Homo sapiens: one gene and its partners. The protein of the gene in region 3 interacts with the protein of the main gene of each other region in a pairwise test. Each region holds a gene or a part of one and is shown on either strand. Other genes may lie near its edges.

Evidence for each region.
Region 1: the proteins of HDX (region 3) and TSGA10 interact in binary tests that used the Homo sapiens proteins (3 or more experiments, as listed by UniProt).
Region 2: the proteins of HDX (region 3) and TTC5 interact in binary tests that used the Homo sapiens proteins (3 or more experiments, as listed by UniProt).
Region 4: the proteins of HDX (region 3) and CTNNA3 interact in binary tests that used the Homo sapiens proteins (3 or more experiments, as listed by UniProt).

Annotation. Positions count from the first base shown.
Region 1 is NC_000002.12:99,151,940-99,159,912, forward strand, and holds the start of TSGA10 (testis-specific gene 10 protein), read right to left. Parts: upstream 3,004-7,973; 5' UTR 2,754-3,003; exon of another isoform or gene 2,385-2,753; coding exon of another isoform or gene 2,352-2,384; intron 1-2,351. UniProt on the Homo sapiens protein: Plays a role in spermatogenesis. When overexpressed, prevents nuclear localization of HIF1A.
Region 2 is NC_000014.9:20,285,704-20,288,967, forward strand, and holds the end of TTC5 (tetratricopeptide repeat protein 5), read right to left. Parts: 3' UTR 524-3,264; downstream 1-523. UniProt on the Homo sapiens protein: Cofactor involved in the regulation of various cellular mechanisms such as actin regulation, autophagy, chromatin regulation and DNA repair.
Region 3 is NC_000023.11:84,492,438-84,499,476, forward strand, and holds part of HDX (highly divergent homeobox), read right to left. Parts: intron 1-7,039.
Region 4 is NC_000010.11:65,915,165-65,922,203, reverse strand, and holds part of CTNNA3 (catenin alpha-3), read left to right. Parts: intron 1-1,586; coding exon 1,587-1,874; 3' UTR 1,875-7,039. UniProt on the Homo sapiens protein: May be involved in formation of stretch-resistant cell-cell adhesion complexes.

The DNA of each region.
Region 1 (7,973 bases), on a different chromosome or scaffold from region 3:
TAATCAGAAAAATACTAAACAAATGTGTTTGTAGGGAATATTGAGAGTGAAAAACAATTGTTGAATGGGACATAAGCCAAAAAGACAATGCTTTTTATTATTTACAGAACGTAATTCTTTAGAAGAGAAAAAAAATACATAAATCATTCATTTGTTCACCTAGCCTGGCACTGTGCTTGGTGCTGGAGATACAGTAGTGAATAAAATAGCCAGTGCCTTGTAGAGTTTTGTGCCTGTCTACTAGGAAAGACAGGAGATTATACAGTAATTATATAAGATGCAAATTGTGATATGCCATGAAGAAACGTATAGCATTCAGAGGGACATAACACAACACAAGACATACCACATAAAACTGATTTTTTTTAAGATGGTCTCACTCTGTTGCCCAGGCTGGAGTGCAGTGGAGCGATCATAGCTCAGTGCAGTGTCGAATTCCTGTTCTTAAGCGATCTTCCTGCCTCAGCCTCCTAGTAGCTAGGATTACAGGCATGTGCCACCATACCCAGCATGTTTTTGTATTTTTTTAGAGACAGAGTCTTACAATGTTACCCAGACTGGTCTCAAACTCCTGGCCTCAGGTGATCCTCCCACTGGGCCATAAACTTGATTTTAACGTGGGAAATGGGAAAGCGTATCTCAGGACATTTTTGAAAGCAAGTTGATTAAGAAAGTAAAGAAACAGAATGGCTACTCCATAGAGCAGCCTCTGAGGACATTTATAGCTTTTGCAGTGACATGGTTGTCTAAGTGAATGATGGTGATGGTCATAAAAGTGGAGAGAAGGGGATAGAGTCCAGGTGAAGTCTGACAGGATGTAGTCATGGTTTGGAAGCGGAAAGTGAGGAAGAAGAAAGGGCTTCTGGCAAAAAAGGCTTTAGCCTTTATGCATGCAGGATCCCTGGGGGGAAAGAGTGAGTTCAGGAGCATGGCTTTTAGACTTACCAGGTTTACAAGGCAGTTGTATCTATGGAACTAAAAAATATAAATTTTGAAGTTGTATACAGAAATGGTACTTAGAGCCATAGAATGAATGAAATTGCTTAAGGAAAATGTAGTGTGAGATAAAGATCTGAGGAACTCCAACATTTAGGGCTGACTAGATCAGGGTAGCTGGCAAAGGGGACTGCGGAGTTGGCAGTGAGGCTGGAGGAAAACCTGGCAAAAGGGACTGAGGAGTTGACAGGGTAATGTCAAAGTTGTCCACAGGAATCTCCAGGTTGAGGTAGTCAAATGAACACTTAGATGAATACTGAAAAGTCCAGTGGATCTAGCAATATGAATGTCACCCGTGACCTTAGCAAAAGCACTTTTGCTGGAATAATGGGGAAAAGCCATTTTGGAGTACGTTGAAACAATGAATGGGAAGTGAGAAAGTAGATACTGGATGTATAGCAGTTTTTCCAAGAAGCTTGGCTCAGAAGGGTAGCAGACAGGATGACAAGTGGAAAGAGAAATGAGGTCACTGGAGGATTGTTAAAGAGTACAGCATGTTTGAGTGTCACTTGAAAGGTTCCAGTGGAGAAGCTGAAGAAGTAGGTAAAGGTAAGAATAACCAAGGGACAGAAGTCCTGGAGCAGGGAGGAGGGAATGGGATTCTTTAAAACCTCTTCATCAAGAAACTAGGAAAAAAAACCAAAGTTGTACCATCTCAGATTTCAGAGAAAGGGAATTTAGAAGGAAGTAATATAAGCAAAGAGCAACAATATTCTGTGACTGTTTTTAATAATAACTAGGAAAATTCCTAGTGCAGTTAACTCTGAACAAAATTCATTCCCACCTGCATAATACAAGATAGACTTACTCAGAGTGACCTTGGTAAAAGGTGTGATAATAAAGAAAGGAGGTGTCATTATGTCTTCATTGTAGCTTTATATGAAGCCCTGGTCATTTACCGTATCAGCATCAGCAAACTGAACACTGAATGATTCTTACTCCAAGAGGCAAGTCTTAGTGGTTTCTATTTTAACTGAAGGAGAGATTAATTTCTGTGCAAGGTTGAAAAAGGTGACCACAAATTCTTTGGGCTTCTTTCATCAAGAGGTGAAGTCCATTACCCCACGCCTTAACTCTGGGCTGGCTTTGTTGTTGTTTTGGCCAATAGAATATGGCTGAGGCGCTGCTTCCAAGATTAGGCCTGAATTGAGATGCCCTAGCAGCCAGGCAGCACCTGCCAGAGCATGAATAAGGCTATCTTGGACCGCCCAGCGTAGCCAACCTGTGCTGAATGAAGCCACATGAATATGCCCAGGAGAAACTAGCAGAAGAATCACCCACCTTGCCCACGTTAGAGATATAAACCACTATTTGAGGCAGTTTGTTATGCAGCAAAACTTAGCCGAAACTATTACCTTGCTACCTTGACTGCTGGTGTAATTTCCCATCTCATGGAGTCACAGAGTTTTCTTGCCAACTGCAGTGAGTTGGCAAATGGGAATGATCAGTAGCCTCAGTGTGTTTTCTGATCCACTCCATCCTGTATTATCATCTGCGAATACCGTTTTTCCTTTAAATGCAATGTGTCTTTCAAAGCTGACTTGAATTTCTCACCTTTCGAGTTACCTGCCATTTGGACTCACTTATTTGGAGGAGATATGTAAAGACCCAGCGTAATACCTGTATGCTCAATAAAAAGTATTTGCTGGTACTCCTTCCTGCCCGTCGTGTGACCTGACTGCTCTGGGCTTCTGGGGGCTCCCCCTAAACTCGCTCCACGAAATGACCCCTCCAACCTGGCACGCCCGCTCTCCTACCTTCGCCCAGGGCTGGCCGTTATCTCTGTGCTGTCACGCGGGGAAGTCCCATCTGAACTGGGGCCTTATGACCTTCGGTACTTTTATTCGAACGTAGCCTGCGTCCCTGCCTGGAACCTGGTTCCCGCCCTGAAGGACCCTTACTTAGCACTCCTGCGGGCTGCCGGGACCCCACGGCTCCGCAGGCGGAGAGACTAGGCGCGATCCCTGCGCGCCCCTCCTTCTCTTGCGCTTCAGGGGGCCGGCCCTCAGGGGGCGGGGCAGCATCGCGCGCAAGGCCTGCCGGTTGCTCGGGGTCGTATGACGCACTTTTCCAGCTCGAGCCCTCACGAGGCCGTGGGTACGACCGGAAGCCGCAGGTGGGTGAAGCGGAAACGCTTCAAACCGGGATGTTGCGGGCCGTAGCGCGTGGGCGGCCGTGGGGTCTTGGGCGCGCGCGGTGTTTCTGGCGGTGGGTCAGGACTTGCGGGTCGCCTCCGCCGGTGTTGAAGCCTCTTGTGTGCACACTTTCTCCTCAGCACTTGGGACGACCTAATTTCACTGTTAGGAACGGTTGATCCCGAACACAGGAGGGAGGGTAAATATCGTAAAACATGTTGGACGCTAGCTGTGTGCACGCCCCCTGGGAGCCAAAAGGGCGAAGTAAAACATGCACACGACCGTAATGAGATTCTGAGTAAGTTGTATATCATTAGAGAGGGGACAAAATAATAGGGTCTTGGCGAGGTCTTATGAAGAAGCTGCGCCTGCCTAGAAAGATAGATGGGATTGTGCTGTTTTCGCTTTCAGTTCAGTGATGGGGAGCCGTGTTTGGCAGTGCAGAGGTAGCGAAGTGTCCCAAGAACATGGAAGGTAAGGAAGTCTTCCGAGGAAAAACTTCAAAAAATTAGTCATTAAAGGGTGAGAGTAGAAAGATTCAAAGTGATTTTGAAGGAACAAAATTTAACCAGAACTTCAAAGGCTTGACACTATCCCAACGACTGTGAAATATCCTGAAATACCGTGCATTACTCAGTCGGGGTCTGATCCGCTACTGGAGCATAGAATAAAAAAAGAGGGGCACACCTGTGCCAGATGAATCCACGCCTTCTCTAGGGGAGAGAGGGTATCCCGGCTTAAGAGCAGGGGCTCTCCTGAGTTAAGGAAGTGTCTTCCCCAGAGCCCATTCCGTCAGACGTTCATATCATGTAACTCAGTCCTTTTCTGATTATGTATTCACCAAGCAAACTTAAGAGTTGGCTTGTCACCAGACCTACAGTGAATAATTGCACAGGCTCATCTGAATATCTGATAGATGGTCTATAGTTCTCTTTGTAAATCAATAAGCTGGCAGTCAGGGATTTTTGGACATCCCTTTGTTTTCACTTTTTCTCACTCTGTGTGATTTTTTCTTATCTTTCGGGGTTCAACTGAAATGTCACATCCTCACTGAGGTCTGTTTATTGGTTTACGTGTTCAGGTGCTTAGAACAGCTTCTTGCATCTTTTCTCACATGATGCCTTTTTAATGAGGCTTAGCCTAACAACCCTATTTAAAATTGCAATGTAAGTTTTCTCACATACACAGTTACAATCCTCCCTTTATCAGCTCTACATTTTTTTTTAATAGACTGAATCTCGCTCTGTTGCCCAGCCCATCTCGGCCCACTGAAACCTCCACCTCCCGGGTTCAAGCGATTCTCCTGCCTCAGCCTCCCGAGTAGCTGAGATTACAGGCGCCTGCCACCACGCCCAGGTAATTTTTGTATTTTTGGTAGAGACGGGGTTTCACCATGTTGGCCAGGCTGGTCTCAAACTCCTGACCTCAGGTGATCTGTCCACCTTGGCCTCCCAAAGTGCTGGGATTACAGGTGTGAACCACCTCGCCCGGCCATCTACTTTTTTTAATAGCCCTCCTTATCACCTTTATTCATTTGACTCACTGATGATTCCCAAGTGCTAAGAACAATGTCTGTCATGTAATTGATGAAAACTTTGTTGAATTAATACCTTTGTTGTGTTTTATTCACACTGTATATACAATACCTGGATGAAGAGAGATATTTTTAGCACTATTAAAATACATGCATTGGCTCAATACATGAATTGGATCAATTCTGGAACCCTAACAAGATCACATTTTTGACCAAAGTCAATATCTTGGACTATAGTTAATTTATCAAGGTAAATGCCACTTTGATGTGTCTTGGTTAGGAATCTTTGTTCACTTGAGGGAATACATGGTATATGATAGGAACAGTAAGCACAGAATAGAGATGGGAAAGGGAGAACCCTGTCATAACAGTTAACATTTCATATTTGCCAAACATGAATGGCTTATGCATATTAACACATTTAATTCTCTCAACCATTTTATGACGTCTGAGGCCACTGAAGCAGCTAGAGGTTAAACCACTTCCCTAAAGTCATTAGTAAGTGGCAGAGCCAGGATTAAAAATTTAAGTCCTTAACTACTTTGCCATCCTGCCACACTCTGCACATGCAGACAAGAGTAAGAGCCTTAATCTTGGGAAAAGATATTTCACAAGATCTTTGACAATTTCCATATCCACAGACACCATCCAGCTTATTAGTGACCACCACTCCTATTTGTTACTTTCTCCTTTAAGGCTGCCCCTACCTGAACTCTGGATCCCAGTACCATCACTTTCTCAAGGACCTCCCTTCTCCAGTGTTGCCCTCTCTTGACTCCCCTACCAGCATCTAAACATGCTCAGATCTATTGCATCTTAAGTCCTCTCCTAACTCCACATTCCTTTCTACCTACTGCCCTAGCTTTTCCACTTCACAACTAGAATACCCTCATTGTATCCACCTTGGGCCTCCTATTTACTCAGTACATCTGGTTCTTACCAAGATCACTGATAACCTTCTTGATACTGTTTAATAGATCCTTTTCAACCCTCATCTTATTTGCTCAATCTTTGGCATTTGGCACTGTTGACCATCTTGTCTCCTTGAAGCTTCCATAATAGCATATTTAAAATTTTTCTGCCTTTTCTTCTATCCTCAGCTTCCTTTGGGAGCTCTCCCTCCTTCTTCTGTATGTCCGTTAAATGTTGCTGCTCTTCAGTCTTATGTCGCAGGCCCTTAAATCTTCTCACTGAACCACCTTCCTGTGGCCTCAGTTACCATCCATTGAGCTCTGTGCCGTTGGCCGCTAGTTCAACAGTCAAAATGAACCAATTATCTTAACCCCATACTTCCTCTTCCTATAAAATCTGTCCTAGGAAATTTCACCTCTTTGCCAGGCCAGAAATCAGGGCATAATATTAATAAAATAGTTAGCACATATTGTGTACTTTCTTCAGTGCCAGGCACTCTTCTAACCACTTTATATGTATTAGCTCATCAGACTCAGCCTGATAATATGAGATGAGTCCTGTCATTATCCACATATTAGATAACAAATCTGAGACATAGAAAAGTAATCTGCCTTAGGTCATTCAACTGATAAAGGATAGAGTTGGGATTTGAATGAGGGCACTCTGGTTTGAGCTTGTAATCATTATATCATAAAGGACATGATGCTTGACTTCTCTTTCTCTCACCCTAATTCAACCTATTGCCAAGTATTGTACATTCTCCATGCTTAAAATCTCTAGGCGGTGTCCCTGAAGTATAAATCCAAAGCCTTCATGCCTGTAATCCGAGTGCTTTAGGAGGCCAAGGCAGGAGGACTGCTTGAGCCCAGGAGTTTGAGACCAGCCTGGACAACAAAGTGAGATTCATCTCTACAAAAAAAAAAAAAAAAAAAAAATAGCCAGGCGTGGTGGCACATGCTGGCTAAAGGGGGAGGATTGCTTGAGCCCAGGAGGTCGGGGCTGCAGTGAGCCGTGATCACACCACTGCACTCCATCCTGGGCAATAAAGTTCAAGCATTTCACTTGGATTTAAGGTTCTTTATAATCTAACATCTACTTCTCTTGCCTTCTTATTAACTCCCCATTCTTGTATTCCTAATAACCAGCCAGTAGAATTAAATTATTTGCATGGGTCCTATCTCCTTTTCCACTAAGCTGTTGCACATTGTTAGAATTCTTTTCTTTATCCCTTTTATGTCTCAGCTTCAATGTCACATCCACTAATTAGAGCATTAGATGGCGCTCTACTGTACTTAACACCTATCACAGCATTTAGGACACTGTATTTTAATTATTGCCTTACTTGTTTTTTAGTATCTCCCACTAGATTGTGGAGGTACTTGTTTCTTGAAGGCAAGGACAGGTTCACCTTCTTTTCTTTTTTTTTCTTTTAGACGGAGTCTTGCTCTGTCGCCCAGGCTGGAGTGTAGTGGCACGATCTCGGCTCACTGCAAGCTCCGCCTCCCGGGTTCACACCACTCTTCTGCCTCAGCCTCCAGAGCTGCTGGGACTACAGGCGCCCGCCACCATGCCCGGCTAATTTTTTGTATTTTTAGTAGAGACGGGGTTTCACTGTGTTAGCCAGGATGGTCTCAATCTCCTGACCTCGTGATCCGCCTGCCTCGGCCTCCCAGAGCTGCTGGTACTACAGGCACCTGCCACCATGCCCGGCTAATTTTTTGTATTTTTAGTAGAGACGGGGTTTCACTGTGTTAGCCAGGATGGTCTCGATCTCCTGACCTCGTGATCCGCCTGCCTCGGCCTCCCAGAGTCCTGGGATTACAGGCATGAGCCACTGCGCCCGGCCAGTTCACCTTCTTAATGTCACTCATATCCATCCCCTTCTCTCTCTCTCTCTCTCCTACCGTACTTTAGGCCCTCATTATCTCTAGCATGGACAACTGCCTTAGTCCATTAACTGTTCCCCCTGTCCCTAGTCCATCCTTTATTTAATCCATACTCAACCCTGCAGAGGCAGATTCGTATAACAGCTGAGTTAACACTTCCTGCTTAACACTTCAGTGGATCTTAGCTGCCTTTTAAAAAGTCCAAATATTTTGGTTCATTACATGAATTTATCTCCTCCCATTTTCTATCTCCTTATTACCTTGTACCTAGTAGGAACTCCATAAATACTTGTTGAATGAATATGGTACTGTGTCAAAGTCAGTCAAGCAGAACCAAGAACAAAGAGGTTAACCAAAGTAATGCAGTCTCGGTTGCGAGGCTTCCTAGGACAGTATAGCCATAGGCTTAAGTGGAAGTCGAAGACTAGTAGTGTAACTCTTTCTCTTAGGAGGGAATCCCCAAACATACCTTACTATTAGATGACTCTTTGTCTTTGCATATGCCTGGAA
Region 2 (3,264 bases), on a different chromosome or scaffold from region 3:
TCATGCTGCTATAAAGACACATGCACACGTATGTTTATTGCAGCACTGTTCGCAATAGCAAAGACTTGGAACCAACCCAAATGTCCAACAATGATAGACTGGATTAAGAAAATGTGGCACATATACACCATGGAATACTATGCAGCCATAAAAATGATGAGTTCATGTCCTTTGTAGGGACATGGATGAAGCTGGAAACCATCATTCTCAGCAAACTATCGCAAGGACAAAAAAACCAAACACCACATTTTCTCACTCATAGGTGGGAATTGAACAATGAGAACGCATGGACACAGGAAGGGGAATACCACACTCGGGGAACTGTTGTGGGGTGGGGGGAGGGGGGAGGGATAGCATTAGGAGATATACCTAATGCTAAATGATGAGTTAATGGGTGCAGCACACCAACATGGCACATGTATACATATGTAACAAACCTGCACGTTGTGCACATGTACCCTAAAACTTAAAGTATAATAATAATAAAAAAAAGAGAGAGCATTAAGAAAATGAAAAAGCAAGCTGCGATTTGGATAAATATATTTGAAAAACATAATTTATAATGGATTAGTATCCAGAACATGTAAGGAATCAATAAGAAGACAACCCAATAAAAATTGGACAAAAGAAAACAGAGATTTCATAGAAAAAGAAACAGGAATGGACAAAGAAATGTAATTTATGCCTACTATGTGATATTTTATAATCATCTGGTTGGTAAAAATTAAAAAGCTAGACAATTTCAAAAAAAGAAAAAGACAGACTGGGCTTTAAAGATCAGTAGGGAAAGGATTGATTCTTTAATAAAAGGTGCTGGGCTATTTACTCATTATGAAAAAAATTATATCCGTACATAACATAAAATAAAGTCATACTGTAAGAAAAGGACAAAATAACTTCATAAAGCAGTAGAGGGAAAATGTCCTTATGACTTTAGGAGAGCTAAGAACCTCTTAAAACACAAAAAGCATTATCATAAAAGATGGATAAATTCAATGACATTGAAATTAAGAACTTCTGTTCAGCAAAAGACCCAATAGAATAAAAAAAAAAACAGGATAAAACTGTATGTAGACAAACGATTAGTACAGGGAATATATAAATCAATTTGACATCCAATACAGCAGTGTGCAAAGACTCGAATAGGCATTTTACCGAGAGAAAATATTAGTGGCTTCTAAATATATGAAAAGATGCTCAAGCTCATTAATAATCAGAAATGCAAATTAAGGCCACAAGGAAATAATACTCAAATCTCCTGTATTTGCAATACCTAAAAGATAATACCAAGCACAGAAGAGGATGGGGAGCATTGGGGTGACTCATCTATTGATAGTAGAGACATAAACTAATATAAGCACTTTGGAAATGTTTAGTGCTTCTCAAAAAAGTTGAACATGTATATACTCTATGATCCAGCAATTCCATTCTATGTCAATACTCTTAAACAGTGGTTCTCAAATTTTACTGTGCATCAGAGTCACCTGGAGGGTTTGCGAAACACAGATTGCTGGGCTCCTCCCACATAGTTTTGAATTCAGTAAGTCTGGGTAGGGGGCTTGAGAATTTGCATTTCAAAGAAGTTCCAAGGGATGCTGATGCTGCTGGTCTGGGAACCACTCTTCAAGAGCCATTGCTGTAAAAGAAACTTTTGCACTTACATATCAGGACATATACAAGAATATTAATAATGTAGTGCTTTGGTAGTAAAAAAAGAAAAACTGGAAACCCAAATATCCTTTAACAACAGGATGAATAAATTATGGTATAATCATACAATGAGATTTATATAGCTGTGAAGACAAATGAGATCATGGAGAGGTATGCAAGGGCTTCCAAGTTATCAATGATGTTCTAGTTTTTAAGGCAGGTGGATATTTTATGGGTATTCTAGTTATTCCTGAAACCGTATGTACAAATTTTGCATACTTACTTGTTTGTACGCACTGCTTCTCTGTGGCTACCACCTACTGGCCATTTTTCTACTCTCTAGCCCTACACAGAACATGTCAACTCATCTCAGAATTTGAGTAAAAGGGGAACAGTATTTGGGTCCCACATCTCTACTGCCTCAAATGTTTACACATACTACTACCCCCATCTTCCCTAGTTGCTTTCAGCCAATTCTCAAGTTATTTTTATACCCCACAAGCTCCTAATCACTCTTCTATGACTCTAGGCCTCAAAATGACACCCAAAACTAATTTAAGACTCCATATGTGGTATAACAGACAGTACTTCTAATAAAAACTGTCTCTTGCTACCATAGGTTTTTTTGGTGCAGTCCATGAAGAGTGTTCTTGCAAACTATATCAGACTGGTTACTCATACTGACTTTAGCTTATCTACTAAGATTCTTAGTAATATTCATATATGATGTTGAAGCTATACCTGAGAATGTAAGCCTTTTTGGACCAAAAGAATGGACTGAAAATTTTATCTTATTAGACTCAGCCTTTATGACTTCTTAGATAGAGACAGATAGATAGATAGATAGATAGACAGATAGATAGATAAAACTTCTCTCATCAATGCATTTCTACCATCCATTCTCTGAGGAGGCCTCTGCACTCTTTATAAATTTAATGAGTCATCAATGATATTCAAGGCACTGATCAAAAACTGAACAGGACTGGACCAAGAACAAAGATCTGAGCCATTTCACTAGAAGACTTCTCAATTCATCTGTATACATTAATGTATTACAGCCATTCAGTTGTTGTTGCTGTTTGAGACGGAGTCTCGCTCTGTCGCCCATGCTGGAGTGCAGTGGCATGATATCGGCTCACTGCAACCTCCACTTCCCAGGTTCAAGCAATTCTCTGCCTCAGCCTCCCCAGTAGCTGTGATTACAGGTGCCTGCCACCACGCCCAGCTAATTTTTGTATTTTTAGTAGAGACGGAGTTTCACCATCTTGGCCAGGCTGATCTTGAACTCCTGACCTCGTGATCCACCCGCCTTGGACTCCCAAAGTGGTGGGATTACAGGCTGAGCCACCGTGCCAGGCCAATTCAATTGGTTATTAATCCTCACTCACATTTCTCCATTTTACCACAAGGATATTAAGATAAACTGTTATAAAACATGTCACTAGACTCTAAAGAAACTGAGGATTTATCTAACTCTCTCTGGTCCTTCAGCCTAGTAACACTATTAGAACAGTATTGCTCTGTCATCTTGGACCATAGTGAAGACCACCCCTAGGGAATGACAGAATGGGAAAATGGAAGAAAGCTGGTCTCTAGCAACTTTGTGGAGTTGCC
Region 3 (7,039 bases):
AGCTCTTAAGCTTCATTACTTGCTAGTCTTGTGACTTTAGCAGAGATAATTGACCTCTGGAACCTCAGTTCCTTCATCTGGAAAATGGGACTATAAAACCTGTCCTATTCTTCTTCAAATGATGTGTCATCTTCATTAAAATACTTAATAAACTGTAATGTGCTACGCCAAGCCTATTTTTGTTACTAGTTAACATATCATCAACTGGCCATCAGTACTGCGAATAACTCTTTTAAAGTACATCAATCCACTCCTACACAATTTATATATGAACCTCAAATGAAGGATATGTACATTATGATATTATGATGGCAAAAAAAAGACTGATCCTGAGATCCCTGTCTATGCAATAAGAGTTTAATCTTTCAAAATGTTTAAGAATGTGAAAGTTAAGCCCAACAAATAGCATCGTGTCCACATATGCATGGAAGCCACTCCAGAATTTTTTAGTACAAATTTAATATTACAAAAAGCTTTTTTTTTTTTTTTTCTGAGATGGAGCTTCGCTCTTGTTGCCCAGGCTGAAGTGCAATGGCGCGATTTCGGCTCACTGCAGCCTCCACCTCCTGGATTCAAGCAATTCTCCTGCCTCAGCCTCCGAGTAGCTAAGATTACAGGCACTGGCCACCATGCCCGGCTAATTTTTGTATTTTAGTAGAGATGGGGATTCACCTCTCTATTTACTTTATTTTAAAATCATCTCACCAAGTTTTTAGATATTGTAAAAAATAAATTCCAGCATCTTCAAAGCATAAAGTCTAGTGACAGACATCTGTTTATTCTAATACTATGAGAGTATATTATCTGTTTATTAAGCTAGAATTTACTGAAATGTATTGTACACATCTCTTATCTGTCTTTTTAGAGATAAAACTAACTTATATTGCTTAGGTGAAAATAGAAACAAAAGGAGATTTTAATAAAAACTTATCATATGATTTTCTCAGGGCACAAAGAAATTGTTCACTGACCTCGCTTTAAAACACACTTAAAATTATGTAATTAATATTCAGTTTTGCCAGCTACATAAAACATATTCATAGTGACATGAACACAAATTGCAAGAAAATTTTATGTACACATACTCCACATAAATATATGAAAATATAAAGGGACATATATGTCTATAGCTACATCCCTAATGACTAAATTCTAAAGAAAGCTTCTACCAAATAAATGCATTAGCAAGTAAATATACTGGATCTCAGAATGTTTAATCAATGATAAAAATGTATTAGCCTTTAATGACACTTGCTTTATTCACATGGTAATGTGTTCAAATAATATACACCTAAAACTATAAATACCTAATCATACCATCAGATATCAGAAAGAATAAGTACCTAGTATTTGATAGCACAACAGGGTGACTATAGTCAAAATAATTTAATTATATATTTTAAAATAACTAAAAAAGTATAACTGAATTGTTTGTAACACAAAGGATAAACGCTTAAGGGAATGGATAGCCCATTTTCCATGATGTGATTATTATGCACTGCATGCTTATATCAAAATATCTCATGTACCCCATAAATGTGTACACCTACTATGTACCCACAAAATTTAAGAATAAAAAAATTAAAAATACTAAAAAAAAGTAAAAAGATCAATTTCAAATGGATAAACAGCTGAATGACAAAAACATAAATAGGGACTCAACTGAATGACTATTTCCTTTGGCTCTGTTTTTATGTAATCCCACATGCATCCATCCATACAAAATATATGACAGTGATATATGGCACTAATGACCAGTGATATACAGCGTCTCCGAATGAGCTAAGTAGTACCTTGATTCATTCATATTCGTTGAGTAAATTTTGTTTCAATAAATTGTGTTTCTTTGTACATTTCTAGCCCTAAAAAATGTGCAGGTAAATCACTTCTATGTTTCACTGGAGAGTGTTTGTACTGCCACAACCATTGAAAGCTAACATTTCACAATCTTGCAAATCACAGTCTTGTTAATACTTTTAAAATGTAGGTTGTATTTTAACTTACTAATGAGGGAAGTACATACACAAAGAGATAGACTATTTAATTATCTTACAACTCTCATTCCTGATTTTACATCAACCTGCACAAATTAAGGGGAAAAAGATTTAGTCACACATTAGAGGTTAGGGGGATATCCCTCAAAGTACACCATCAAGTGGTAAGTAGGTAACATTATATAAACATACACATATATAGTGTAGAAACAACATACAAACACACATGTATTTAGACAATGAAAATGTGAAAGCATAAATTTATCCCCATTGAGAAAAGGAAACTCTTGTACAACTTTGGTGGGGATTTAAATTAGTACAGTCATTATGGAAAACAGTATAGAGGTCTCTAAAAAATTAAAAATAGAACTCCTACCACATATGATTCAGCAATCCCACTTCTCAATATATAGCCAAAGGAAATAAAATCAGTATCTTGAAGATATATCTGCACTCCCATGTTCACTCACTGCAGTATTATTCACAATAGCCAAGATACGGAGTCAACCTAAGTGTCTATCAACAGATGAATGGATAAAGAAAATGTGGCATATATACAAAATGGAATACCATTCAGCATTGACAAAGAAAAAATAATCTTGTAATTTGCAACTACATAGGGGAACCTCGAGGACTTTATATTAAGTGAAATAAGCCAGGCACAGAAAGACAAATACTGCGCGATCTCACATATGTGGAATCTAAAAAAAAAAAAAGTCAAATTCATAGAAGCAGAGAGTAGAATGGTAGTTATCAAGGCTGGAGAACAGTGAGGGATTGGGTAGATGTTGATCAAGGAATACAAAATTTTAGTTAGACAGGAAGAATAAGTTCAAGAGATCTATTGTATAACATGGTGACTACAGTTAATAACAATGTATTGGATGCTTGAAAATTGCTAAGAGAGTGGATTTTACATGTTTTCACCACAAAATAAGTATGTGAGGTAACTGATTTGTTATTAGCTTGATTTAGCTGTTCCACAATGTGTACATATATCCAATCACCATGTTACACACTATAAACATATATATTTTTGCCAATCAAATAATGAAGGATTATCCCCACAAATACTTTAAAGAGTAAGAAAATGCATAATGTAATCATGCTCCAGACTTCTTGTCAAAAAAATAAAAATAAAGAAATTGCATAATGACTTAAAAGTCTCATAGAGTAGAACCCCAAATCTGATAGCCACAGGTAAAACTCCTCCTTTATTCTTCAAATGAAAAAAATAAAACAAAAACAAAAGATACTTAAGGCAGAATATCTCAAACAGAGATCCAAAGATAGATTTTGTCAGTGTAGGAAAAATTTTGCTTTTGTTTTTGGGGGTAGCCTCTAAAAGTTGGAAAAGCCAAGGAAACAAAACCTTCTCTAGAGGTGCCAAAAAGGAAAGTACTGCTGACATATTTATTTTAACCCAAAAAGACCCATTCAGACTTGTGCCTTCTGGAACCATAAGATAATAAATTTGGGTTGTTCTAGGGCAATAATTTTGTGGTGATATATTATGGCAGCAAAGAGACAACATACCATTCCCCTTGAGGATGTTGGTGACAGTGAACCCAATACAACTATATTCTTCTGTAACACTCTGTTGAAAAGTCAAGTAATTAGGATAAATATCATTTCAATGGTAAAGCCATTGCTGTCACCAATGTGAGTGGATATACTCAGAGGCTTAGCGATTTTACCTATGACATTGGTGTAGTTTTTTTCTCTTAATGATACAATGCATACTTCAGAATGGAACAAAGCTGATCTGTATTTGTCATACAATGTATAATGGAGAATGCTTAGATCGCATATTTCTTTACAAATGCGAAAACAGACAAAAGAAAATTCAAGTTTTTGTTTCTATGACCACCAGCTCTTAAAAGTCTCTGTTGTACAGGAAGTAAGATTTCACTTTACTTCAGTTCTTCTCAGACATTAATATACATATTAGTAAGTAACTGGGAGGTCTTGTTAAAATGCGGATTCTGATTCAGTATATCTAGTGTGGGGCCAGGAGATTTTGCAGTTTCTAAGCATCTCCCAGGTGGTGTTCATGCTACCACTCTATGGAACACACTTTGAATAGCAAGGGAGGGATTCAACAATCCCTACCTGAGGCTCCATATCACAAACAATACTGAATTCAAAATGTTTCTCTCTGCATTCAGTATTACTAGTTGAGAGAAGAAAAATAATCTCAAACTGACTTCCAGCATCTTTTAACCATTTATTAGTGATGGAAGTGAGCCTAAATAAAGTGTCTGACTCATTACTTTATTAACTAACATAGATATTCAAAAATAAATTCATGTGGCTATACTTTTGTCTTAGAATAATGAGGAGTCAGGACTGAGCATTCTAATACCTAATGTAATATTTCCCACTATTACAGAATATATTTCTTCTTCCACATTTTACAATGCCTGGATCTCTTCCAATTGTTGCTTTGTTGAGAGGTGATATGGTTTGACTCTGTGTCCCCACCCAAGTCTTATCTGGAATTGTAATCCCCACATGTGGAGGGAGTAACCTGATGGAAAATGACTGGATCATGGGGGCGGTTTCCCCCATGCTGTTCTCATGATCATGAGTGAAATGGTGTAAAAGTGTTTGGCAGTTCCCACCTCGCTCTTACTCTCTCCTGCTGCCATGTAAGACGTGCCTTGCATTTCTTTCAACTTCCACAATGATTGTAAATTTCCTGAGGCCTCCCCAGCCATGTGGAACTGTGAGTCAGTTAAATATCTTTTCTTTATAAATTACCTAGTCTCGAGAAGTTCTTTATAGCAGTGTGGAAACAAATTAGTACAAGGGGATTTCAACACAACAAATTTTCGGTCTATGAAAGGGCAAAGCTATTTTGAAAATGCATCTCAGATAATTACTTTCTTAAATGGCACAGCTATTCCATCCATAAAACATACAATAGGTACATTAAGCTAGCCAAATAAGAAAATATTGAATCATTAAATTAGTGTATTAGAAAAGTTATATAATAATATAATCTATGTTTTAATAAAATCCACTCATGAAGTGCTTTCAACATTGGTTGGTTTGACAGTAAGAAAGAATATGGGTTTATGTGCCTTCTGCCAGTGAAGCCATTGGAGGTCAGCACAATGAGCCCTTTCCCCTTAACTTCAGCCTTTATTTATGTAAAAAATGTCATCTCCACTAAGGAAAAAAAAAGGAAAATATTACAGGTATTAGAGGTTCAGAAGGAGAAAAGAAACTAGGGGAAAATATACATGTTATATGACTGTGTGTGTGTGTGTGTGTGTGTATGAATTTACATATACGTGTGTGTGTGTGTGTGTGTATACACATAAATTTTTTGAAAAACAATGAAGATAGGCCTCACTGTAGCTCCTTAACTTATACCTGGTAGCTTAACAGTTGAGCATACAGTGTCTAGAATAACACCTGCCCTCAAATCCTGGCTTTGCCACTTAGTAGTATATGACCTTGCATGAGCACCATACACTAATATTTGCCTAATAACAAAAGTGCTTAGGGGAGTATATAAGCCACATGTTTGCATGACTGTTTTTAGAAGCTTGAAAGAAACTGTCCCTAACTCCAAGGGAAAAGAAGCTAAGGAGATAGTTTGCTAAATTTTGCCACCCTGACAATAATAGCCTCAAAGATTCTAAGGATCAACCCAAATGCACATATGTCTAGTTGTTAAATAATAGGACACCTTTTGTGAAACAAAAGGTAAGACAGATATTGTTCTAGATTTCTTTACAGATGGAAGATGTAAGGTGAAGCATTTAATTGACTAACAGTATAATTTCATGTATCCAGTTGCCTTATACCTAGATCTCTGGTTTAATCCAGGCAATTTTGCCACTAGTTGGCACAAGAATGACCTCATTTGGACAGACAGGTTTCAACTTATTTCCTTAAAATTTTATGCAGAATGGAAAGGTATTAGGATATCAGTGATAGCTTCTGAATATGCCAGTGTCTCAAGCTCCCTTCTTATGCATAATATATCTCTAGAATTATCGATATTTGCTCCCAAACTAGTGTACCTAGATATAGTGTACTCAATACAAGTATATTAAGAAACCACCAATTTCAGTTTTAGCTCACTGACTCCACAATAAAATAAAAATCAACAATTCAAATTTTATTTATTCTGTTGGAGATTACACTATAAAAATATAATTCCCTCTGGAAGTATGATACAATTTTAAAAGCAGAAGGAAATAAATGTTTTTAAAATGTATTTTATGCAAATTTTCATGCTATATTTTTTCAATCAAGACTGAGAGAGTGTGTTTTAATAAAATATCTAAAACAAATGTAGGTATACACCATTTATTTGGGTAATCTTACAAATCTCTAACTTTGTAGAAGTAATATGGTGTTTATGGAATGTATGCACACACACACACACACACACACACACACACACACACACACACATCTCAGATTCCAGAGATTTAGATCCTAGCTAAAGCTCTGCCAAAAGTTCATTATATTGACCTTAGTCAAGCATAACTTGGTGATTAGAAGTCAAACCCGTGATTGGGTCTTGACTGTGACGTATAGTAGCTGTGTGGTCCTGGGAAAATCAACTGCTTTGAAATATGTTTTCTCATTTGTAAAATGGGAAATAATACTATACACTCTTTCATATAGATTTTGTGATGTTTAAATGTAATAAGATATATAAAGTTTTTAGCACAATGCCTGGCACTAAGTGCTTAATAAATATTAGTGTTTATTAATGCTAGTAAAGTACCTCACTTCTTTGGGCTTCAGATTCTTTACTTGTAAAATAAGGGGATTGGCTTATCACTATAAAATCTCTCCCAACTTAAACTCTACAACTTAAATGAGAAAACCCAATGTCATCCTCCCAGATAGAAATTGTAAAACAAGCCTTAAAAAACGCATGTCACACTCAGTTTTTTTCATATTTTATTTTGGGCTCTCTAAACTTAACAGCATATTTCTAAGCACCACATTCTATCCAGAGTTGCTTAAGTTTGATCAGTTTTCTCTATTGGTCTATGTGTAAATGTCTAGGAAAG
Region 4 (7,039 bases), on a different chromosome or scaffold from region 3:
TAACTATTTGATATCGAAAAATAATCACATATTGGAAGTAGGATATTCTTGGAGGCAGGTTTATGTAATGAGAAAAAACGCAAGGTAGAACCAGACTTACTTGGTTCCAGTTCCAGCCCTACTATCTAATATCTGTGTTACTTTGAGCAAGTCACCAGACCTTCCAGTTCCTTTGTTTCTTCATCCATAAAATGAAGATAATAAGAGTACTTACCTCATAGGGTTGCTATGAGTTACTTTATGTCAACTGCATACTACAGCATATAATAGATATTAGCAATTATTTTAAGCTCTTCTGACACTTGGAACCAAACTCTTGACATTTGTCTTTCAAAAATTGCTTTTGTGCAGGACCAACATCCAACAGGGGTCTTTGAATTCAGGTACACCTTGAGACTCAAGATCATAGGCTACATTTGGTACCAATTTACCAAAAAGGTTACTGGACAGACCATATATCTTTCCAAGCAGCATCAGGTTTTTCTCTCAGCAGGAGTCTCAGAAGAAGCAGTTGGCATGGCAGTTCACACTGCCCTGTGATTGGGAAGCTGCTTTCCCAGGTGACAGACCAGGTGCAAGAAAGTGAGATCCACACCAGTGGAAGTGAGGTTCACGTAGGCTTAGAATCCTCATGTAAGGCGTATGTCTGGTAACAGTCTTGAATCCAAACTATAGGGAGTTAGACTAGTGTCCTACGAGTAGAAAGCATTCTAGTGTTTTGACACAATCTCTGTGAGAAACTTCCAAAAGCAAGAGAAGGAATATGTACCATGTCTTTTTGAATATTCCTCTTAGCTATCACTAATTACAATAGGGTTTTGGCAAGGGTTTGCTAGCAGACATTCCAAATTGACATAGTTGTCAAGGATTTATAGGTATTTAGTGTTTTTGAGAAAAGATCCAGGTATTCTATACAAACTACTTACATGGACGAAATGTTAACATTTTATGAGGAAACAGAAAATGTATTTTATTGTTGCTAAACTCCACCTTTTTGTAGTAAATGGCTATTGATATGTTTTTAAGAGCAAGTCCTTTATCCGTAAACATTTGTAGAATTGGTCCAATTTGTACCGTTGTTAAACTGAAACCATATAATACCACAAAGCACAGAAGAGACACTATAATAAAAGTAAGATTTATACAGGATAATATTTAACAGGATTCTATTTAAATTGGCGTATTAGGGTTATTTGCAAAACACATTACATAATTAGCATAAGAGTTAATTGAACATAATCACTTATCCATCTAGATACAAAAAAATGAGGCAGAACTTATTGATTTATGTTTGGGCATAGACAATATTGAGCAGCTTATTGTGACATTAATAGACTATCAGGCTCAGTTATTTTTATTTTTATTATTTATTTATTTTTTTATATGGGGTTTCACTGTCACCCAGGCTGCGGTGCAGTGACGCCATCTTGGCTCACTGCAACCTTTGCCTCCTGGGCTCAAGTGATCCTCCCTCCTCAGCCTCCTGAGTAGCTGGGGCAACGGGCACATGCCACCATGCCCACGCTTGGCAATAATTAACAAAACCTCCTGGAATAATAGCTCTTTTTTCTCTTTTTTCCCTACAGTTGGACAGTGTCACATCCCTGATCCAAGCAGCCAAAAATTTAATGAATGCTGTAGTGCAAACAGTGAAAATGTCTTACATTGCCTCAACCAAGATCATCCGAATCCAGAGTCCTGCTGGGCCCCGGCACCCAGTTGTGATGTGGAGAATGAAGGCTCCTGCAAAAAAACCCTTGATTAAAAGAGAGAAGCCAGAGGAAACGTGTGCAGCTGTCAGACGAGGCTCAGCAAAGAAAAAAATCCATCCATTGCAAGTCATGAGTGAATTTAGAGGAAGACAAATCTACTGAAACCACTATTCTACATATAGTGCCTATATGACAAAATCCTGCCTAACCACACTGCTTTATTTTACACTTAAGAAGTTCTGTAATTTCACTAAGTTTTGGTGTTTAACTCACAAATAACATAAAATATTGGGCGCTAAATCAACAAAAGCAATATATATTTGGGATCATATCACTGTCATTTCTGTATGGTCAGCACCTAATAGTTAAGGAATATTTGCTTGTTGAATGAATGAAATTATCACGTGTCATTCAGCGTTTCCCATCATAGAGATTATCTACTATTCGTTACCAAATAAACACAGGAGAGGCCAGAGAGTCCTGTTTATCTGTAATACTTCATGTACACTTATCATCCTTATCTTGAATTAAAACACTAACATGAGCTCCTAACTTGGTTTTTTAATAGAAACAAAAGACTTTTATAAAATATTTTCCCATTTAATCTCCATGCTTTCTTTATCTGATCTAACCTGGCACCTAACCAGGCAGAAATGTATGATTCCTGCCATAGCAAAAAAACCACCTTTTAATCTCTAGATAGCTGTACTCATTGTCAACTTATTAGGCTAATATCCATTATAAACTAATCAAATTTGAATAGTTAGGCTACTTGCTGGATTTTGAAGGTCAACCTTGTTTATTAATAAAATGCTTTCTTAACATTATAAAGGTTACAATGAGTTCTGATGCCACATACTCACCTTTTGGGTTTCCAATGTGTTAGAGAGTTCTGTACTTTTGAGTGTTAGGCCTATCCGAATACATATGTGAAAGAAGAGTTATCACCCATTGGGAAAATGAGACAACAAACTATATCCCAAAGTGAGTTATATTAATAATAACAGAAGTGTAAGTTCTGTATGACCCTATTTTTACAAACATAAAAATACATTTTTATCAGCTTGCAATTGTAATTAAAAGGAAAATGGCAGTTTGAAAAATCTTTTGACGTTGAGTAAAATATAACTGCATGAACTGTACCATTGAACTATGAAGCAGTTAATGGCAATGAAGCTGGAGTGATTTTAATAACGTTCTTTTAAATAAAAGTCACTGGGGTCATTTTACAACTCCAGTCACTGTGTTCATTCCTAGTTGAGTTCATAATGGACTTCATAATAGTCTTAGAGTCTAGTGTACCTCTCTCTGTCATTCTCTCTCTCTTTTTCTCTCCCCTGATGACCTGCCTCTCTCTGTCTTTCAAAAATGTCCTTAACAGAAACTCTTTGGAGGCCATAAGTTTTGTTTTCATTTTTTCTCATTCATAGAGTTCTGATTCACAGACTTTAAAAAACATTTTCTATTCTACATTATCATAATAGTATTATATTGTACCTTTTTACTTCTAAAACATTGCCATTGATGAGAGGCGTCTCAGCAACGATGTAACCTTAGATTGATGAGAAAAAAATTTACACATACAATACCAGTTGATATTAGGAGAACCAGTTTGGGTAAAAGGATGCATGAAACATAGAAAAGCATAAAGATTGACAGTACGATATGTGTGGAATCTTAAGCATAATGGTATGGGAAAAGAAGGATCTATTTAATAGGTCATTATTAATTATGCAGGAAATGTTAAATTTCTTGTAATGAATTATTTCAATCTTCCAAGTAGCTGGATTGCCTGAGCTCAGTGTAAAACTTCCTAGGAGGTGAAGGCAATAAACTCCTCCCTGTTTTGCACCATAGACTGGCCTACAATAACTATTCTGAACAGAATGCACTGCCCAGAAGAAAAGGCAGTGAAGAAGGGAATTAGGGAATTCAGATGACTCTGTTTTTCAGAATTATCTAGATGATTGAGGCAAATAGAGATTTTCTTTTATTGAAATGCTGCCATCATTTTCTGCTCTAAGTGTAGATGTTGCACGAGTGACATCTGTGGTATATCCTTCTTCCAGATAGAAGTATAAATTTATAATTTAGTGGGGAGAGGAATTTTCTTTTAATCACCAAACTACCAGCTGTATAGAAAATTTTTTTGAAATCACCAAACTAGCAGTTGTGTATCTTAGCTCCTAAAGCCACATTCACAAGAATCATAAGCATCTCATTTAGAAAATCTAATGTCCACCGGACCCAACATCATCTTTCCACATGTTGGAGTTTAGAACATGCAGTATTGGACACCAAAAGAACAGAAATAACTTGAAATTATACAATTACCAAATAACCTCCATCTCTTTGATAAAAATGACTTTTTACCCAAAGTGAGATGTGAACAAGTTCTCCTCTTTAACCCAGGCAGATTTTCAGCTTAGCTCAAAGCAAACTATAATTAAATAAAACAATAAAAATTTTAACTCAATGAATATCCTAGGAGTTAATCTGCTGTGGTAATCGATAGTGACATAAAAACAAGATGCATAGAGCTGAAAAAGGCATCTGTCCACCTGAGTGAATTCCTGTAGTAGGCAGCATTTCAAGATTTAGTTTGATTCAAACCTGCTGATAAAACAAATGCTTATATGCAAGAAAAACTAGCAGCAAGATATGAATAAATCTCCCCATTATGTTAAAAACTAATCAGCATGACACATTTATATTTAGGTATTTCTTCTGCAGAGGATTGCCAGAAATTTCTTAATGAGAGTGATAATTTGGTGATCCACCTATGTACCTTTTGATGTCTCATCACAGAGATTAGTGCTTCCTCTGATAATACATTTGCTTGATCCTGCTAATAAGAACTCACCTTTCTTTTTAACGAAATCAATTTGTGTTAATTTACATAGGGAAAAACGTTCCTTGAGAGGGAGGAGAGGGGTGTTTACCACCCACAGGAGCAGTTCCATCCCTGGTTACCCACCAGTATCCCTGCCAGATGTTAGACTGGAATTAGAATGAAAATTTAAAAAAAAACGAAATAATAATCCACTAAATGGCCTTCTAATTAGAGAAATTTGAAGATTTCTATCAAATATAAAAAGTGAGAAATAGAAATCATTCCCTTTAATTTATGACAAATTAAAATTATTGAAGTAAAATGTTTCTAAGTCAGTTTCTGGATAGTTCTTGAATGAGTCAAGAAAAAACTCAAACACTAAATTTCTAAGCTAATTTGTTCATTATTCCTTTCTGTTTATTATTTATTATATGAGTGCAAATTGCAAATGTATTAGAAAAGACAATATAGCCTTCACATTCACAAGTGTGCCTTCTGGCCTTTGAAATCTTTTAACATAAGATCAATATAACATATTTGTTCCCCATAAAAATCTCTTATGTACAGGGAATAAGGTCCTCCATAGCTACACAGAGACACCCATTCTTGCAGTCTGGCATTCTTAACACCTTTAGCTTCAAAGGCAGTCGGTTTCAATTTCAAGCTAAAATTGTGAATATACAATTAAGTGCGCAACTTGGGCCTTCAGACCAAATAATTAATGCTCCTCAAATTAAATAATGAGTGGCTGAAAAGCCTAATGTGTAACAACAGAGTAAGTGACTTCAACGGCTTCCTGAACCTTCATTTTGAGGGTGTTCTCATCTCACCCACCTCTGGGCTAGGTATCCTCTGTTAATTGCTAACAATTTCCTACCAAAATAGTGCAATCAGGACTGCCCATCACAGCAAATTACTCCAATTAATGCCCTTTCCTCTTCTGTGAACCAAAAATATCTCTCTCCTGTCTCTCATCTCTATCCCAGGTATAAATTGACTAATAAATTTTACAGAGTTTTAGTCAAAATTATGAATTTTAATTTCCAGCAACATTATTCCTTTAGTCTTTCTATTCCCCAAAACATTCTTAAATTTTGGTATCAAATGTTCATTTCTGTCCTAGAGATTGTGGTTCCCATGGCTACAGATTTTTGTATAGTGGTAGTATGAGTGGAATAAGATCTGAGACTTTTCCTGGTGATATCCACCATTCTCTTGTGAACTCATTGCAGAATAAACAGCCTCTTTCACTTTCATTGTAAGTAGTTCTTTAGGTTGGCAAAGCAGGCACCAGAATCTGAATTTGAATGAAATCTGTACTTTCTTTTGTTGGCCTATTTTTTGCCAAGACAGCCTGCCTATTGTATATTTAGGAATCAAATATTCATTTTTTCTGTTTGTAAAGCCAGAAATATTTCAGTTAAAAAGAATATAATTTTATATTATTTTAATAATTCTTTTTAAGTAAAGTAGGAAAATTTCTGCCACCTGAGATGTTACTGTTTTTATTTATATGAAAATTCCATTTTTTTCTTTATGACTCTTTTCCCATACCATTATGATATGTTCAGCATTAGTATTTTCCATTTTACCACTAAACAAATAAGCCAGGACTAATAACAATAGCAGTTTGAGAGTTTTTATTTTGGCATTTTGGTTTTAATTAGGAAAGAAAACATGGATGCTATTAAAACTAGTTGTAGTTAAAAATGTTTTGAATGAGGCTACTAACGCTATCTTAGTCATCTCAAAGAGAAAGAGAAGAAGTAAAATTTTAAATACCTTTTTGGCATTTTTAACCAATTCATATGAACAAAAACATATATTCTATTAAAGCAAAATAAAGAATAGTTTAAAACACTAGTCTTCTTGCATGTGAATATTTTCCCCCTAACAGACAAGATAGAATCCATTTCTGGACACTCTAAAAGAAAGTAATGTTAATTGAGAGAGCTGTCTCCAAATGGAACTCAACCTGACCAGAATCCCATCCGCAGGCAAGAGATGGGCTGTGGGGCCGACCATAAGTTTTATTCTGAGACGAGATGCTTTATGGCTGCTGGCTGCATTATGGCATCTAGCAGTCCCCACTGGTTTGTGGGAACAAAACACATGGATTGATATTCAATATGAGTTTGGTAAGTTGGAGAAAAATGGAGACGATACGGAGTAGTCTAAAGGCACAACAAATAAGAAGGTGCCAGAGGTAGGGAAGGGTCTGAGAGGGGTAGTTGCAGAAGCATTTAGCTTTCATAGATGAGGGGAGAGTTTTTTGGTTTTATGAAGATTAGGCAGCCCTCCTGAGGAAAGTATTAAGGATAGAATGAGACACTTGTCTTGGTGGTTTGGTGAAGTCGTGTCGAAGGCAAAAGGATGAACTACACATATTTTGAGCATGATTTAGTAATATTGTTTGCAAGTTGAGAAACAGAAATTCAGCCATTCTCCTGACTGATGGTAGGTGAAATTCTTCCCAATATTAGAGCCAATCTGG